4 separate regions of the Homo sapiens genome follow, and regions 1, 3 and 4 are each linked to region 2. The links come from fine-mapping of genetic effects on gene expression. A gene starts in region 2. Each other region holds a variant in brackets. All regions are shown on one strand. Distances are between the middles of the regions. Region 1 has its middle 9.0 kb from the start of PSMF1. Region 2 holds the start of RSPO4 (R-spondin 4). Region 3 has its middle 32 kb from the start of RSPO4. Region 4 has its middle 25 kb from the start of DEFB126.

What was found. PIP is the estimated chance that this variant, and not a neighbour inherited with it, causes the effect.
Region 1: its variant is the best candidate, but not a certain one, in a credible set for the expression of RSPO4 in whole blood (TOPMed, PIP 0.85).
Region 3: its variant is the best candidate, but not a certain one, in a credible set for the expression of RSPO4 in whole blood (TOPMed, PIP 0.77).
Region 4: its variant is the best candidate, but not a certain one, in a credible set for the expression of RSPO4 in ovary (GTEx, PIP 0.66).

Annotation. Positions count from the first base shown.
Region 1 is chr20:1,107,496-1,111,661 of GRCh38, forward strand. No RefSeq gene overlaps it. Among named protein-coding and RNA genes, the nearest start is that of PSMF1, 9.0 kb to the right of the region's middle. RefSeq lists an enhancer at 1,171-1,220. The variant C/T (reference allele first, on the strand shown) is at 2,547.
Region 2 is chr20:999,996-1,004,156 of GRCh38, forward strand. It overlaps RSPO4 (R-spondin 4), which reads right to left and starts at 2,316. Exons shown (of 5, transcript NM_001029871.4): 1 at 2,091-2,316. The coding sequence starts at 2,169.
Region 3 is chr20:1,032,346-1,036,511 of GRCh38, forward strand. No RefSeq gene overlaps it. Among named protein-coding and RNA genes, the nearest start is that of RSPO4, 32 kb to the left of the region's middle. RefSeq lists an enhancer at 1,732-1,781. The variant A/G (reference allele first, on the strand shown) is at 1,986.
Region 4 is chr20:115,879-120,044 of GRCh38, forward strand. No RefSeq gene overlaps it. Among named protein-coding and RNA genes, the nearest start is that of DEFB126, 25 kb to the right of the region's middle. The variant G/A (reference allele first, on the strand shown) is at 2,411.

The DNA of each region.
Region 1 (4,166 bases), 110 kb after region 2:
CTCCACCTAAGAAAATTGCCCAGGGTCATACTGCTTGTAAGTGAAAAAGCCGGGATTTGAGCCCAGGAAGTCTGACTTGCAAACTTGCATGCTGCAGGGTTCAAGACTTGGACTTAAACCCAAGTTTGTTCTTCTCAGCTGTGTGACCCTGGAAAAGTTGCTTAAGTTCTCTGAGCTACTTAACTTCTCATTTAAAAGTTGTTATGAAAATTGAATTAGATAACATGAGCCAAGTGCCAGACACATAGTAAATCCTCAATAAATAGGTGCTGTTTTCCAAGGCCTCATTATCTCAAATAATGAGCCACCTCTTAGGGGCCCTTATCATGAGCCAGGTACTGTGGGAGGCATTTTATTGACATCATGTTCAGAAATTCTCCCAACAGCCCTTGGGGAGACACCACTATAACCCCTATTTGACAATTTGATAAGCCATTTCCCCAAAGTTGCACAGTGAGTAAGCAAAGAGGCCGAGATGTAAACCCAGGTTCCCTGACTCCAAGGCCTAGACACTTTTCTACACTATGCACCTGCTAATGTATTTATTCACTCATCACATATTTATTGGGCACCTACTATGTATGCCAGGCTCTGTTCTAGGTGCCAGGACTATAGCAGTGAACCAAACAGACACAAATCCCTGTGCTCATGAAGCTGATGTTCTGGTTTGGGGAGCATCAGGCAGAGCTTCTAGCCTTTCAAGGTAATACTGGTCACCCCTCCCACCTGCCTGACCAAGGTGGGCAAGTGCCTGATGGAACTTTGGAGTTGGAGCTGGACATGGGTGGCATGGGGGCAAGGCAAGGATCAGGCCCAAGTCTGTGAAAGGATGGAGACAAAGAGAAGTAGGGGGTACAGGAAAGAGAGTGGCCTCAGAAACCGACCCTCTGTGCCTCCAAGGACTTGGGTTCTCTGGGGACCGTCTCTCCCTGAAGGCAACGATCCCCAGAGCTAAAATCAGGTATTTCCAGGTGTGAAGGCTGATTGCAGTGTGGACAGAGCCTGCTGGGGGGGCTCTGGTCTAGGGCTCCCCTGAACCTCCTGGTGGAATGAAGTCAGGATGGAGGAGAGTGTGCCTCTCCCTGCGTGGCTGCCATCTGTGGACATTTGGGTGGGCCAGGGTGCCCTCTTGTGGCCTCCCTTGTCTCTGCAGAGACTCTTCATGTGTCCCTGTGGTTGGAGGAGCTTCCCATGCCTAGATCGTTTCTCTGTTCCCAGCCTGGACCCTTGACCCTTTTTTCTATTCCCAGCCTTTTCTGCCCCTGAGGTCTGAAAAATGGTCCTCGTCATGACTCTTGGCTTTTCCTGTGTAGATCTTGAAACTCAGAGCTCAGAATCCCGCAAGCCCTTAGTGATGCTGTTGGAGGCATGGCACTGTGATGAGGAGGCAAGCAGGCTGACCGCCTGGCTCAAATCCTGACCCTGCTGCTTAGGACAATGGCACAACTTCTCCCTTATTTTTCTCATTTTTAAAGCGAAGATAATAATAGTTTCTACCTTAAAGTGTTGTTCTGGGAATTAAATGAGACAATATACATTGAGCAATTTGTCAAAGCCCCAGTACTACCCCCCGACCCCCACCACACACACACACTCACACTCACACCTTTTATGCCTTCCCTTAGTATTTCAGAGGCCTGAAACCTAACAAGTGCATTTTTCAGAATGACTTGCCAGCTGGGTTCCAAGTTAGATCCAGCCACTGGGAGGCAGAGGCAGGGGCACATTATTGCTTCTCCAACAGCAGTGGCAGAATCTTGAGTTTTAGGTTTCAGTTTGGCAGCAGCCTCTGCAGGTCCCCCCACCACCCTACATACACACAGACTGCCCCAGGATGGGAGGCAGCTGTGATCACTGCTGGTGGTTTTCTGAAGCTCCTGCAATGTCCAGACTTTCTGAAAGCTGGTGGCAGCTTTCCCCAATCTTTACATTCCAATCCATCCACTGGTTCAGTAAGCATCATATTTTTCCCATTAAATCCCCTTCTGCTGGATGTCAAGCAACCAGGGCTCTCATTCATTGTTGGCAGGTGTGGAAAATGGTATGACCATTTTGGGAACACATTTGGCAGTTTCCTATAAACATATACTCTACCATAAGATCCAGCAATTCTACACCTAGGAATTTATCCAAGACCAGTGAAATCATAAGGCCATACCAAGACCTGTCCATGTATGTCTACAGCAGCATTACTCATCACCATCCCAAGCTGGAAACAACCCAAATGCCCATCAATAAGGGACTGGACAAACTGGCACATCCATACAACACAATATTACTCAATAAAAAGGAAGGTACTGATACACACAACATGGATGAAGTTTGGACATGATGATGAGTGAAAAAAGGCATGAAGGGGTATTATTTTATGTGTCAACTATGGAGGGGTGCCAAACCTTCAAGAAAATAATTGCCACACAGCTGTGAGGAGTGCAGTTTGCTAACGTCCTCCGGCCATAGGACCACTGGGATCATGCTGAAGCCATGCTCTTTACGGGCAGCCCACCGAGCAGAGACAGCACTAAGGCCTGGCCATTTCAATCCAA[C/T]AGGGAACTCTCTATGATATTTCTTGGTGCTGGAGTTCTCCGTTGGGCTGGCTGAGACTTTCTCACTAATCCTTATTCCTTCCTTCTCTTCTTTTGTAGGAGCCAGATCAGCAGAAAGGCCTGAAGGTTCTCCCCACATACTCCTGTTCCCACTCCCCTTTTCCTTTTGTGACTTATCCCCAATAAACCTCTAACACTGCTAACTCCATCTTGACATCTGCTTCCTGGGGCATTGTATACATTTCATTTATATGAACTTTTAAGAGAGGCAAAATTAGATACCAAAAATATAGATGCAAAAAACACAGATCAGTGGTTGCCTGGTGATATGATTTGGATGTTTTGTCCCCTCCAAATCTCCTGCTGAAATGTGACCTCCAATGCTAGAAGCGGGCATAGGGGGAGGTGTTTGGGTCATGGGGGTAGATTCCTCATGAATGGCTTGGTGTCCTCCCCATGGTAATGAGTGAGTTCTCACTCTATTAGTTCATGTGAGAGCTGGTTATTTAAAGGATCCTGGCACCTCTTCCTTGCTCCCTCCCCTTCTCTTTCTCCATATGACATGCATGCTTCCCCTTTGCCTTCCACCATGATTGAAAGCTTCCTAGGCCTCACCAGAAGCCAAGCAGATACTGGTGTCATGCTAGACAGCCTGCAGTGCCTTTCTTTAGAAATTACCCAGTCCCAGGTATTCCTTTATAGCAATGCAAAATGGACTAACACACCTCAGCTAGAGGCTGGAGAGATTAACTGCCAAGGCACATGAGGAAATTTTTTGGAGTCATGTAAACATGCTATATCTTGGTCATGGTGGTTACGCTGGTCTATACATTAGGCAAAACTCATGAAGTATACAACTAAAACGGGTGATTTTATTGTATGTAAATTATCTCAATAGAGATGAATTTTTAAAAATCCTTTCTTTCTGGAAATACCTAGAGAATACGGTGGTTATAAGACTGTGTGCATTTGTCAAAACTCAGAGTTATACACTAAAAAGGGGGAGTTGTACAATCTATAAATTATGTTTTTGGCCAGGCATGGTGGCTTACGCCTGTAATCCCAACACTTTGGGAGGCCAAGGCAGGTGAATCACTTGAGGCCAGGAGTTCGAGACCAGCCTGGCCAACATGGTGAAACCCCATCTCTACTAAAAATACAAAAATTAGCTGGGCCTGGTGGTGCGTGCCTGTAATCCCAGTTACTTGGGAGGCTGAGGCAGGAGAATCTCTTGAACCCAGGAGGCGGAGGTTGCAGTGAGCCGAGATCGTGCTACTGTACTCCAGCCTGGGTGATAGAGCAACACTCTGTCTCAAAAAAAAATCATATATATTTTTTCATTGAAGAATGAATCAGGGAAATAATAATTTTTACTGATTATCATGTGGTTATTGCTGAAAATAATTTCATAGATGAGGAGGGAGGTGTTAAAAAGTGATCTGCTTCATTGACATCCTCATACTTCCTGATTTCAAAACTTACTACAAAGCTACATAATCAAAACATTATGGTACTGGCATAAAGACAGACATATAGACCAATGGAACAGAATAGAGAGCCCAGAAATGAACCTTCACATGTATGGCCAAATGATTTTCAACAAAGACACCAAGACCATTC
Region 2 (4,161 bases):
GTAGCTGGAATTACAGGCGCCCGCCACCACACCCAGCTAATCATTGTATTTTTAGTAAAGACAGGGTTTCATCATGTTAGCCAGGCTGGTCTCAAACTCCTGATCTCAAATGATCCGCCTGCCTTGGCCTCCCAAAGTGCTGGTATTACAGGCGTGAGCCACCACACCTGGCCTAAACCAGCTCCTCTTTAGATGAGGAAACTGAGGCTCTGAGAAGGGAAGACCAGCACACCTCAGAAGATATCTTCTCAGCATTATGTCAGGCAGATTGGGATTCGAGCCTGCTTTGCTACTCACCTGCTGTGCGACCTTGGACAAGTCAGTTTCCTTCTCTGAACCTCAGTTCCCTCATCCAGAAAACAAGCATCTCTCCCCTCCCTCCACTAAGCCACTGTGAGTAGCCAAAGACACAGTGGACAGGAAATGAGAATGATTAATACTTACGAGCACCCATTAGGAGCCTGTGTCCTTAGCTACTCATCTTGCCCACAATCCTCCTTATGAGCAGGATACTTAAGTAAAAGATGGGTTGATGAAGGGAAAGGGGGTTTGTTTGATTTTTTGGTATTGTTTAGAATGGAGAAAGATCTCAGAGATCTTCTAAAGGACCCTCAGATGGGTAAAGTGAGGATTGGACAGGCAAAGTGACTTATCCAAAGTCACTCAGTTGGTAACTGGGGAAGCTGGGATTTGAACTCAGTTGACCTGGCTCCAGAGCCCATGCCCCTAACTACTAAACAAAGGCCATTCACAAAGGAGTGTCCCCATAGAGTCCCAAACTCACCCCAGCTCAGCTGAAAACCACACGCCTCTCTAGTCCCTTGTCCCACTGTCACAGCAAGAACTGGAGCCTCTTGGGCCACAGTCTCCCCAACCCCATCCAATCCCACCTCCCAATTCTCCCACAGCCTCTGTCTGCTTCCTGCTCCGTTCCAGGAGTGACTGTGTCGCTGTAGGGCTTTCACACAAATGGAAGGCCCCAGAGGGCAACCCATCCTCTCTCATTTTCCTTCCCCTTTATCCTTGCTCAGACCCGATGCCAGGGCTGGAAAGAGAGAAGACACCAGCTGGACAATTCAGCAGTTATTTAAACCAGTCTGAGCCTTGGAATCCCAGGCTTTATTAAAACTGGACGACCCCTATGTCATGAGCATATAGTTGGGATTTGATGAGCTAGGACATGAAAAACCCGTGGCATAGTGGCTGGCATTCGGCTGCTGATCTTAAGAGTGGCACCTGGAGGCCAAAGGGCTGCCCAGCTCAGGCAGGCGATTTGCTCACTTGCTCACCCGCTTACCCTTCTCTGAGGCACAGGCTCTACCAACTCCTGCTCTGCAGGGACAGCCTCCAACCCACCTTCTGAGGATGTTCTGACTCTCACAGCGAGGCTGTGGCATAGGACTCCCAGGTGAGAGCGCATGCGGCCCCTGGTACATTTATAATCTGAACCTTGGCTCATCTTCCTAGTGGCCTGAGAGGTGAAGATGGAAAAGCTGAGGCTCTCTGAGGGGCTGGACTTCTTCTAGGTCATCCCCTATTAGAATAAGTGAACCTGAACTCAGGTCTCAGGTCTGGCTGAACTCAACATAGGGGGGCCATGGAGGATCACTGCCCTCTGGGAGGTGACACCAGGAGTCAGGGTGAGTGATGAGGCTGGGACTGGGGCCTCTGGACGCCCAGCCCAAGGCTCTCTATGTCACTTCCTGGCCGAGCATGGATGCTTGGAATGGCTTCTACGCCACTGAGTCTGTCTCCTAGTCCCTGTGCCCCGCAGGCTGGCTCTTGAGTCTTCTGTCTCTGCACGAAGCCATCCTCCTTTCTGCTGACCATGCGGCTACTACAGAGAGCCCTGCTACCCTCTCCCTTCTGGGTGAGTCTCCTTGGCCCACCCTACTCAATGGCTCGCTCACTGGGTGCCCTGGAGCCTCAATCTCCCCATCTTAAGTGAGGTTGAGACTCGTCTGGAGGAGCGAAGGACCCAGGGCGCCAGGCACCAGGCAGATGCCCCCAGAGCCGCCGCCCCCGGTCCTCCGGCCCCCGGTCTGCCCCGCAGCGCCTGCCCGGCCGCCCTGCCCAGCCACCCCTTGTACCTTGCTTCTTCCTTCGGTTCAGGGCGAGCATGTCCACGGCGTGGGCGACGAGCAGGAGCAGGCAGAGTGGCGCCCGCATCTGGGCAGCCGGATCCGGGCTGGCGCTCCCCAGGCGGCCCGACGGCCCAAGGGCCCCACGTCCCGGCGGCGGCACGGCGGGCGCGGGGGCTGCTGTGGGCGCGCCGGGCGCATCCGCCAGGCGCGGGTCGGTCCGGCCGCCAGGTCTAGTGAGGGCGTTGGCGGAGCCGGGGCACTGCCCTGGCGGGGAGGAGCCGGCGCGGCGGGGGCGGCGCGTTAACCAGCTCGGGGCCCGGGAGCGCGCGCGGGGAGGGGGCGGGGGTCACCCGGGTCGGGGCCCTCGAGTTCGATCTGTCCCGCAGCCGGCGGTCTTGCGTCTTTCCCGCCCCCAGCACTGCCCCCGAGCACGTGCACGTGCCCACCGCCAGCCACAGGTACGCACGCGCGCGCAGGTACAGATGCGCGGACACCCGGAGACCCGTACGGTCCCCCGCGCCCTCTCAGCGCCTGTGATTTTCTTTCCCTCCCCCCAGTCCCCTTTCTCTGTCTGTTCCTCCTTCTGGCCCTTAAGGACAACTCCTTGTCTCCTGCTTTCTCGGTCTTTCCGCGGCCCGCGCTCCCCTGCTCTGCCCCCGACCCTGCCTGGCTGTTCCTGCATCCTTTACTCTTGCCGGCCGTCTCTCTCTCAGGCTCACTGTCTGTGTCCTCCTGGCTGGGCCTCTGGTTCTCCCTTTTCTCTGTCTCTCCCTTCAACCCCATCTCTCCCCTTCTCCCCTCCTGCAGGGTGGGGTGTTTGCGGGGCTCCTGCTGCCTGGCTTTCTCTTTTTCTCTCTACTCTGTCTCATTCTTTTAACAGAGGCCTGAGCCCCTTCTGGCCACTAACCCTGAATGTTTCCTGTGCAGTCTGCGGGGATCATCTACTCCGACTCAAAGTGACCAGCACCTCATAAATCCACTTGTGACAGGGCTGGGGACCTGGACTGTGTTTCCTCCAACCTTATCACCAGGACTGGGAGCAGCTGGTTCAAGTTTAACCCTTTCAGAGCAAAATTCCTCCTTCAACCCGACAGCATGCTCACCTCTCCTGTCACTATAACCACCAAAAACAACAACAATCATGCTAGCTATCATTTGTGAGGCATATATGGTGGGCATTGCTAAGAACTTGACATATACTAGAGTCTTCAAAACAACCCAATGGTTTGGGTTTGTATTCTGAGTAATTCCACTTTTCTGGGGAGCAAAGGGAAGCTCAGAGAGGCCAAGTGACTTGCCCAAGGCCACACAGCAGGTCAGTGGCCATTCTGGTCCAGTGCCTGCCCCTCTTAGCCACTTCTCAGGCACAGACTCATCAGAATGGAAGAGGCCTTGGAGGGAGGCCTAGAGAAACTTACAGTTGACACTCTCTTGCTGAACAATTGTCCTTCCTTTTTCTTTTCTTTTTTTTTTCTTTTTTTTGAGATGGGTTTTCACTCTGTCACCCAGGCTGGAGTGCAATGGCGCCATCTCGGCTCACTGCAACCTCTGCCTCCTGGGTTCAAGTGATTCTCCTGCCTCAGCCTCCCAAGTAGCTGGGATTACAGGCACCTGCCACCACACCCAGCTAATTTTTGTAGTTTTTAGTAGAGACGGGGTTTCACCATGTTGGCCAGGCTGGTCTTGAACTCCTGACCTCAAGTGATCCACCTGCCTCAGCCTCCCAAAGTGCTGGGACTACAGACGTGAGCCACCCCACCCAGCCTGTCCTCTTTTTTCCTACATGTGGAGCTTGCTCCAAAAGAAATGGAAGGTAAATGCTGGTATCTCCTCCAGCTCCTTCTCCCAGTGCAATGAGGGACACTTGAAGGCATGGCAGGGGCAGGGGAAACACACAGAGAGTGTGGCAGCTGAAGGTACAGCCCTGGCCTGGCCATTCTTTCTGTGGGGCCCCAAGAACGCTGGCAGACAACACGGAGAACTTGGTGGAATGTCAGAGACAGCCCACCCAAAGTGCTCCATTTCACAGATGAGGCCACTGAGCCTTCAGGACTGGGGGGTGCCTAGATTAGGCCAC
Region 3 (4,166 bases), 32 kb after region 2:
TGGCTCACTGCAGCCTCCGCCTCCCAGGTTCAAGCAATTCTCTGCCTCAGCCTCCCAAGTAGCTGGGATTACAGGTGCCCGCCACCATGCCCAGCTATTTTTTTTTTCTTAGTAGAGAGAGGTTTTGCCATGTTGGCCAGGCTGGTCTTGAACTCCTGACCTCAAGCAATCCACCTGCCTCGGTCTCCCAAAGTGCTGGGATTATAGGCATGAGCCACTGTGCCCAGCCTACACAGTGAGCTTTTGACCAATCTAGAATTTGGGCCCAAGATTGTTTAATCCCAAACCCAGTGCTCTTTCCGCTACACTTCTCTCACCCTGGGCACATCCACCAACAACATTTGTTGAACTCCTATTCTGTATACTTCAGGGAAACTTTATCTGGTCTCTACTTCCACTGAGCTTGTGGTCTAGGAGAAGAACAAGAGTTTTATCTAACAATAATAATTGTATTTTTAAGTGCTTACGTTTATTAAATACTTACTATCTCCTAGACCAGCCTTTTTCAGTGGAGTCCATGTATTGCAGAGTATACTCCACTGGGTTGCAAGAAAAACAATTAGTAATTCTATCTGTATATTTGATCTCATCTTTTAAAAATTTTCATTTTGTGTATATCATATAAGATGATAATATATTGATTGATAATATATTATGTTTTTACTTTGTAAATGTACATATTAAATATATTGGGGGCAATGTTCACTGACAAGAATGGGACACCTAAATCTTTAAAGACCCATTGGTCGCCTGATCACATGATCCCATCTGGCCCTCATGACACTCCTGAGGACCAGATTTTTTTTGTTGTTTTTAGAGACAGAGTTTGCTATGTCACTCAGGCTGGGATGCAGTGGTACAGTGATGGCTCACTGCAGCCTTGAACTCCTGGGCTCAAATGTTCTTCCTGCCTCAGCCTCCCAAAGCTCTGGGATTACGGGCATGAGCCACCATGCGTGACTGAGAACCCGATGTGTTGCCCCATGTTACATATGAAGATACATCTTTAAGGTAATGAATATCCCAATCACCCAGATTTAATTCTTAAGCGTTGTATACAGGTATCAAAATATCACATATACCCCCCAAATATGGCCAACTATTGCATGATTAAAAAATAAAAGAAAAAAGAAAAAGAAACCATCTTTAGCAATACCCTTTTAAAAAGTGCTTTTTGTTTGTTTAGCTTTCTTTGAACATTTGACCCAAGTCTTCCCTCACTCAGAAAACCACTCTGTAAAACATCCCTCAACATGATTTCCTCACAGACAAACCTGTCTGATAATTTAATGCTGCTGCCATTTTTTTTTCTGGAGCTCTGAACTTTGATGCCTATCTGGACTAGTTTTGCTCTAGACTTGGGGCACAGATACCATTAGGAATTCCTTTGTCTCTCCTGTGTTGAAACCACAGACTGCTATATCTCAGTTCATCATAGAAAATTTACAAAATAAAAGCCACAGAGATTCATTCCCCTGCCTGTGTCTAAGCTCTTGTCCAAGCCCCTCTCACATTGACTCTGGGCTTGGTCACGTGACTTGCTTTGGCCAATGGCATAATGGCAAACATGACACAAGCAGCAGCTGGAAAATTACTTGTGCATATGAGCCTTTGCCCTTTCAGCTCTGGGGAACCCTGTGACCACAACCAGGCTGGCAGCAAACCCAGGCTGGTTTGCTGAAGTATAAGAGACCGATGGCTAAATCATCTCTGTTACCCCAGCTGTGCCAAGCCAACCAGCATATATATGTGAGTGAGGCCATTGACGACCAGCTGACGGCAGACACAGGAGAGAAGCCAGCCAAGACCACATGGAGCCCAGCCCACGCCACTACTGGGCTATAGGTTCATAAGGGAATAAATGGTGGCCGTTTTCAGGCAATTTGTTACACAGGAAAAGCTCATGGTTCCTCTTCTTGGTTTAGTTCCTCTTTTTGGTGGAGCACAGCCCCTGGTAGCATGGAAGTTTTAAAACATGTGCACCA[A/G]TCCTTTGACACTTGTCCCATCAGCAGATAGGGTTCATGACACCTTCCCTTGCTTGGGCCTGTACCTTAGTAATGCAGCAAAAGTGACATGGCATAACTTCTGAAGATAAGTTAGAAAAGGCCCTACAGTTTCCACCTGGTTCTCCTGGGACACTCACTCCGGGGTAAGCCAGCCATTGAGGAAGAGGTATGAGATCACCGTGCTGGAAAAGCTACATGTCAACACACCACTCAACAATCCAGTCGAGACAGCCTTCCAGCCATCTGGGCCAAAGGAGCCAGACTGGTGAGTGATGTCATCTTGGGCCCTCCAGACCAGCTCATCCACCAGCTGAAGACCACTAAGTGAGCTCCATCAACACCACGTGGAACAGAATCATCACCCAGTTGCACCCTCCCTCAGTTTTTAACCCACAAAATTAATCCACTAATTTTGGTGATGGTTTGTCATGCAACAATAGATAACCAGATTCTATGCCATGATGGGAAGTTCTGCAGTTTCATTGGGAAGTGGCAGGCATTCTGGGACAGAAAAAACTTGGGGTCATTTGTGCAATCTACTGCACAGATTTTTAATCTCTGGTTTCTTACTCTCTGTTCCTTCCAGAGAGCTTCTTGTTCACATTTTACTGCTGCAATATCTTTATCACTCAAGGGATATTAATTGTAGGATTTATTTTAAGTTTTCTCTTGTTCCCTGGATTCTTTTCTTGAAGACCTTTTACCCCGCCCTCATGGTTTGCTTTGATCTCTGCACTTCATGATAGAAATTTCTAATGATCCTTGGCTGTCTACTCACATTACCACTCTGGCTGGAAACTGGGTGGGGAGGGTGGACTGGTAGGCTTTTGTGTAGGGTCCATGCAGGGTGGTTGCATAGGGCTGGTGCAAAGGGGCTGGTTGGCTTTTTCTGTGATGCACTCTCCTCCCACCCCCAATTACCGTATCTTTAGGTCTTTGTCCTGGAAGTGGTTCTCCAGATAATTTTCTGCCTGGGGTTGGACATTCTAGAATGAGACGGGTGAAGGGGGCTGAAGATCTCACCTTCTCTGGGCCTGATGTTTCTAGTTTTGGAGTTTCTTTGTTGCCTTTTTTTCAGAGAATAAACCTCCCTTTGCTTGCCCAGAAGTGAGTGGGGTTACTACCTGGCTGGGCAGGATGGGGGTTGGGGACGTGGAGGTCCCATGCTCCTTGTACAGATTGCTTTCAATCCCCACTTCACCAGCAGCTCCTCCAAGACCTAGTAGCTTCAATTTTTGAGGCCTTTAGGCAAATTGGCTTGTTTCTCTATGCAGCAATCCACCCACACAGCAGTCACCTACCCCATCCATTTAGCTTTGACTTTCTTCCTCTCGGTTATGTCACTGGCCACTTCATCCATTTCCCTCCTTTGTAGTTCAGGGTTACAAATGTCTCTCGATTTCCTCAAAGACAGAGTTTTTGTTTCTGCTCCTTATTCTTGTTTTGGGGAAGTTTTTTGTTTGTTTTTTTCTTTTTTAAGAAGAGAAAAGGAATAGAAATGTCTTTAGTCTACTATCTTAAAGCCACCATTTCATTAGAGTTTTAAATGGAAAAAGCACCCTCTTATATTGGACAGAAGTGTGTCAGCAATGTGGGTTTTGTGACTCTTACTGGAGTAAGAGCCTACATTATACGCCAAGGTGGCTTCATGTTCTAGTTTTACAAATGCATTTGATACAGTTAATAAAATAGCAAATTATGTATTAAGGAGAATACAGATAAGTCATTGCTGGCTTGGCAGAGAGTGGAGAGCAGCCTTGACCAAAAAGCTTAGAGGAGGAAAAGTGGGGTGGAGGCATGAGGTTGACCTGTCCCTGCTAAGTGCCACTGTTTTCAGCTCACCCCTTTCCACCTGCAGGTCCCTGCTCAGATGCCACCTCCTTGGAGGATCCCCACCCACCTGTCACTTTCTCTCTACTAACTTGTTTTATGTCTGACTGCCTGCCAATGGATTTGATTGACTTATTTATCTTTAGGTTTGTCGACCCCACTAGATCATGGGCTCCATGACCAGGGGGAGCTTTGCTTTTTCACCTCCATACACTCGGTGCCTGTGAGCACCTGGTACATCAGTAGATGCTCAATAAAGAGTTGTTGAGTGAACAAATGAATGAGCCAGTGATTGCGTGGATCCATGTTTTCTATGAGAAGGCAGAGCTC
Region 4 (4,166 bases), 880 kb before region 2:
GGTTCCCACCACCCAAGAATCCCACCTTCCCCTGCCTGAGAGTTTGGCTGGTGACCCAGGGACCAGCCTGAACCCCACCCCCACCCCATTACAGTCAGCACCTGAAATCTGGGATAGATAACCCCAGTCCAGCCCCTTCAGGGCCATGCACACTGTCCAGCAGGCCTTCTGGAGGCCTGTCAGCTGAGAAACTATCAATACCCTTCCAGTGCTGTTGGCACCTGACCAATTTCCTCAGGGCCTGAGGTTGGGCCTACCCAACCAGCAAACACCACCATGACCAACACCGACCTGCACGGACCCAAAGGTGGAGACCTTCCTTCTCAAAAAGCAGCAGTAATGCCCCATCATAGAATAAGTGAGCCTTAAAGCTATCTGTATCAGGTTGAGTGATGAGGTTATACCCTGAACAACTCTCATGGAGAATCATAAAACAAGTGTTCCCTGTGGCCCTCAACCACATTGCAGTCCAGAGATAGACTATAGTGTGCATCTGAACTAGGAGTCATGAGCCCTGAAACAGGGTGTGATAAGGAAACAGATCACATTTCTACCTACCTAGGATGGGGAGCTGGTGCAGTCTTCTCGCCCACAAGCCCCTACAGAGACCTCAGTGCAGGAGTTGCTCCCAGCCACGCTCATCAGAGCTGGTGCCTGTGCTTGCCATTGGTATACTAATGGGCAAGCCAGGGGCACCAGCTCTTCTCAGCTCTGTCCCACCATCCCCACAGAACAAGAAGCTCAGTACATCAGGCACCCCCACTGTCCAGCCCTTCACCTGAAACAACTGAGAGCCCCTAATAGTAAAAAAAGATCAGATCTATACCCATCTGTTTATGGGACAGCTGGCTGTTACTTGCAAATGTCATCTACCAGTCTATAGGTCAAACTGGACAGCCCATCAAAAAACCTGCTGGTAGAAGTGTGTAGGACTATAGAAACAAAGCCAAAAGCCCTACCCAACACAATCCCCTCCAGATAAGAAGGAACTAGTATAAGAATTCTGCTGTCATGAAAAATCTGAATGTGTGACACCAACAAGGTTCACTCTAGCTCTCCAGGAGTGGTCCTAGCCAAAATAGAAGCTGAGAGATGACAGATGGAGAATTCAAAGCATAGATTGCAGGAAAATTCTTTGAGATTCAAGATAAGGTTGAAAATCAACACAAAGAAACCTGTAAAGCAATCCAGAGAATAAAGGAAGAGGTAAACTCTTAAAAATAAATCTATCAGAGCTACTGAAAGTGAAAAACTCACTTAAGACATTCCGAAATTCAATGAAAAGTTTTATCAATAGACTAGATGTAGCAGAAGAAAGAATTTCAGAGCTTGAAGATCAGTCTTTCAAACTAACCCAGTCAGACAAAATAAAGAAAAAGTTATTTTGAAAAATGAACCAAATCTTCAAGAAATATGGGATTATGTAAAGTGACCAAACCTATGAATTACTGGCATTCTCAAGAGAGAAAGAGGAAAAAGTAAACAACCTAGAAAGCATATTTGAGGGAATAATTCAAGAAAATTTCCTTTATCTTGCTAGAGAGGTAGACATCCAGATACAATAAATTCACAGAACACCTGCAAGATGCTATACAAAGTGAACATCATCAAGACATAGGGTCATCAGACAGTCTAAGGTCAATTCTAAAGAAAAAATCTTGAAGGCAGCCTAGAGAAAAGTGTCAGATGAGTTACAAAGGTGAGCCCATCTGGCTAACAGCAGACTTATCAGCAGAAACCCTACAATCCCAAAGAGACTGGGGGCCTATTTAAAGAATTCTCAAAGAAAAGAAACTCCAAGCAAGAATTTCATACCCTGCCAAACTAAGCTTTATAAGTGAAGGAGAAATAAGATCTTTTTCAGACAAGCAATCACTAAGGCAATTTATTGCCACTAGACCAGCCTTACAAGAGATCCTTAAGGGAGTTGGAGTTCTAAACATAAAGATGGAAGAACAATATCTGCCACCACAAAACCACACCTAAGTACATAGCACATAGACCCTTTAAAGCTATTACACAATAGGAACTATAAAGCAACCAGCTTACAATTTCATGACAGGATCAAAATCTCACATATCAATATTAACCTTGAATGTAAATGGTCTTAACACCCCACTTAAAGGCACAGAGTGGCAAGTTGGATCATAAAATAAGACCCATCCATCTGTTGTGTTCAAGAGACCCATCTCACATGTAATGACTACTACACTAATTTTATCGGGTTTTTTTCCCCATTGCTTATAAGTTTCATTTTATGGTATGTTATTTTGATTGTATGCCAAACATTGGGTAAATGGGTTTTGGAGACTCCAAGTGATGTTATCTTCAAACATAAAAGGTCCTCCCTTTCTCCAGATAGCAAAGAGATAAGGACATGACTAATTCAATATAACAAGGCATTAAGCTG[G/A]TTCAGGGCTGGGTTTCAGTATTAGTAATGATTCCAACCACATCTAGTTTGGTCCTGTTTCTCAGGAATAGCCCTCCAGGCTTTTTCTTCAGGGTCTGTTTGGTCTCAGTATCTTCAGCCCAAAAAAACAATGAGGGAATTCTAGCTCTGTTCTTTATGGTTTTCAAACATTGCTCTTCAGCCTCCTGATTCAGGCACTTCTGTAATGTCTCAAGGGGGAGACTATCTGTGTGCTTGAGGTAGGCTCCATATCACTATCATATCTGTTTCCTAAGCACTACAAGAGTACAAGAAATCTCTTACTGCCTTTCGGAAGTTTCAGCTGAGCTTTCCAACCTCTCACAAAGCTCTACTTTTCCAATGCTCCATTGGGGGGACTAAAATTTGGGGCACCTGAAATTCCAATTTGTAATTCCTAGAATCTCTGCTACTTCTGCTGATTCAATTACCTCCCAGAAAGCCTTTCTTTCTGGGCCAAGCCTGATTTCCCGTCTGTCCCAAACTGACAAAGGCACCCATGGGGGAAATGGCTGGCAATTATTGACCTACTCCAGAAACAGAAAGCCTGTTCTGTTCTCTCTTTAGAATATCAACTCTTCTAGTACCAGTAATTTCTCTGGTTCTCTAATGCCTTGGAAATATTATTTTAATAAAAATCAAGCTTTTCTAGGTTTTGTATCAAAGGCATTGCTTTTCTGTGATTTACTGATTTCTCCCCAAGAACAGAACTTCTCAGGCCCATTTAATCTTAACTTAATTGCTGTTATGTTTGGCTTTAAATTGGCCATTGTTTAACGTGATTTACATTTTCCTGAGTTTTCTATATTTCTCTTTTTTCTCCTTTCTTTTAATCTTTCTGTATAAACCAGATGTTCTTTAATTCCATTTTCCTCCCCACTAGTTTTTAATGTATTCTCCTTTTCTATTCATCATCACTCTAGAAATGAAGACATACATTCTTAACCTATCAATATCTAATATTAACCAAAAATGTGTATTTCTCCTCAGACAATGCATGGAATACAACTCCATTTCACCTGCCTCCAGTTTATATTCTATTGCTTTATTTTACTTTCATATAATACTAAGACAATATTATTGCATGCGTGACAATTATAGGTAGTTCTATTTTCTGGGTGACTCCAACAAGTTATCATTATAAAGTAACCCATTTTCCTCTAAGATAATTTTTGCCTTAAATACTATTTTGTTCAATACTAAGAAGTAAGATAACTTCCTTTTGTTGGTATTTGCATGTTAAGTTTTTTTCCCATATTTCCACTTTCAATCTTCTCCGTATCTTGTTTTTACATTTATCTGTTGTAAATAGCATCTAATTTTTCATCCAGTCTAGCAACTAGAGTTAATCCATAAATTTACCAATCTCTGAATAATATATGGAACATAGACCACTTTAATTCTATTTAACGCTCCCAATTGATTCTATTTTCAGAATTTTGATATTTAATTATGTTTTTAATCTTATAAAACATCTTTATTTAATTCTGCCAGTTTAATCCACTTTTATCCCTTTTTTTGTTGCTTCTTCATCACATACTTTCCATGTGTGGTCATTTTTTTAAACTAAAGAACATCCTTTAGAATTTCCTTTCATGAGATCTGCTATCTCTATCTGAAAAGGTTGTATTTATATTTTCTTCTTAAAATATTTTTGTGGATATGGATTTCTAGGATGACATTTACTTTGAAAAATACGTTGAAGAGCTCAGTCCATTGGATTATGGCTTCTATTGTT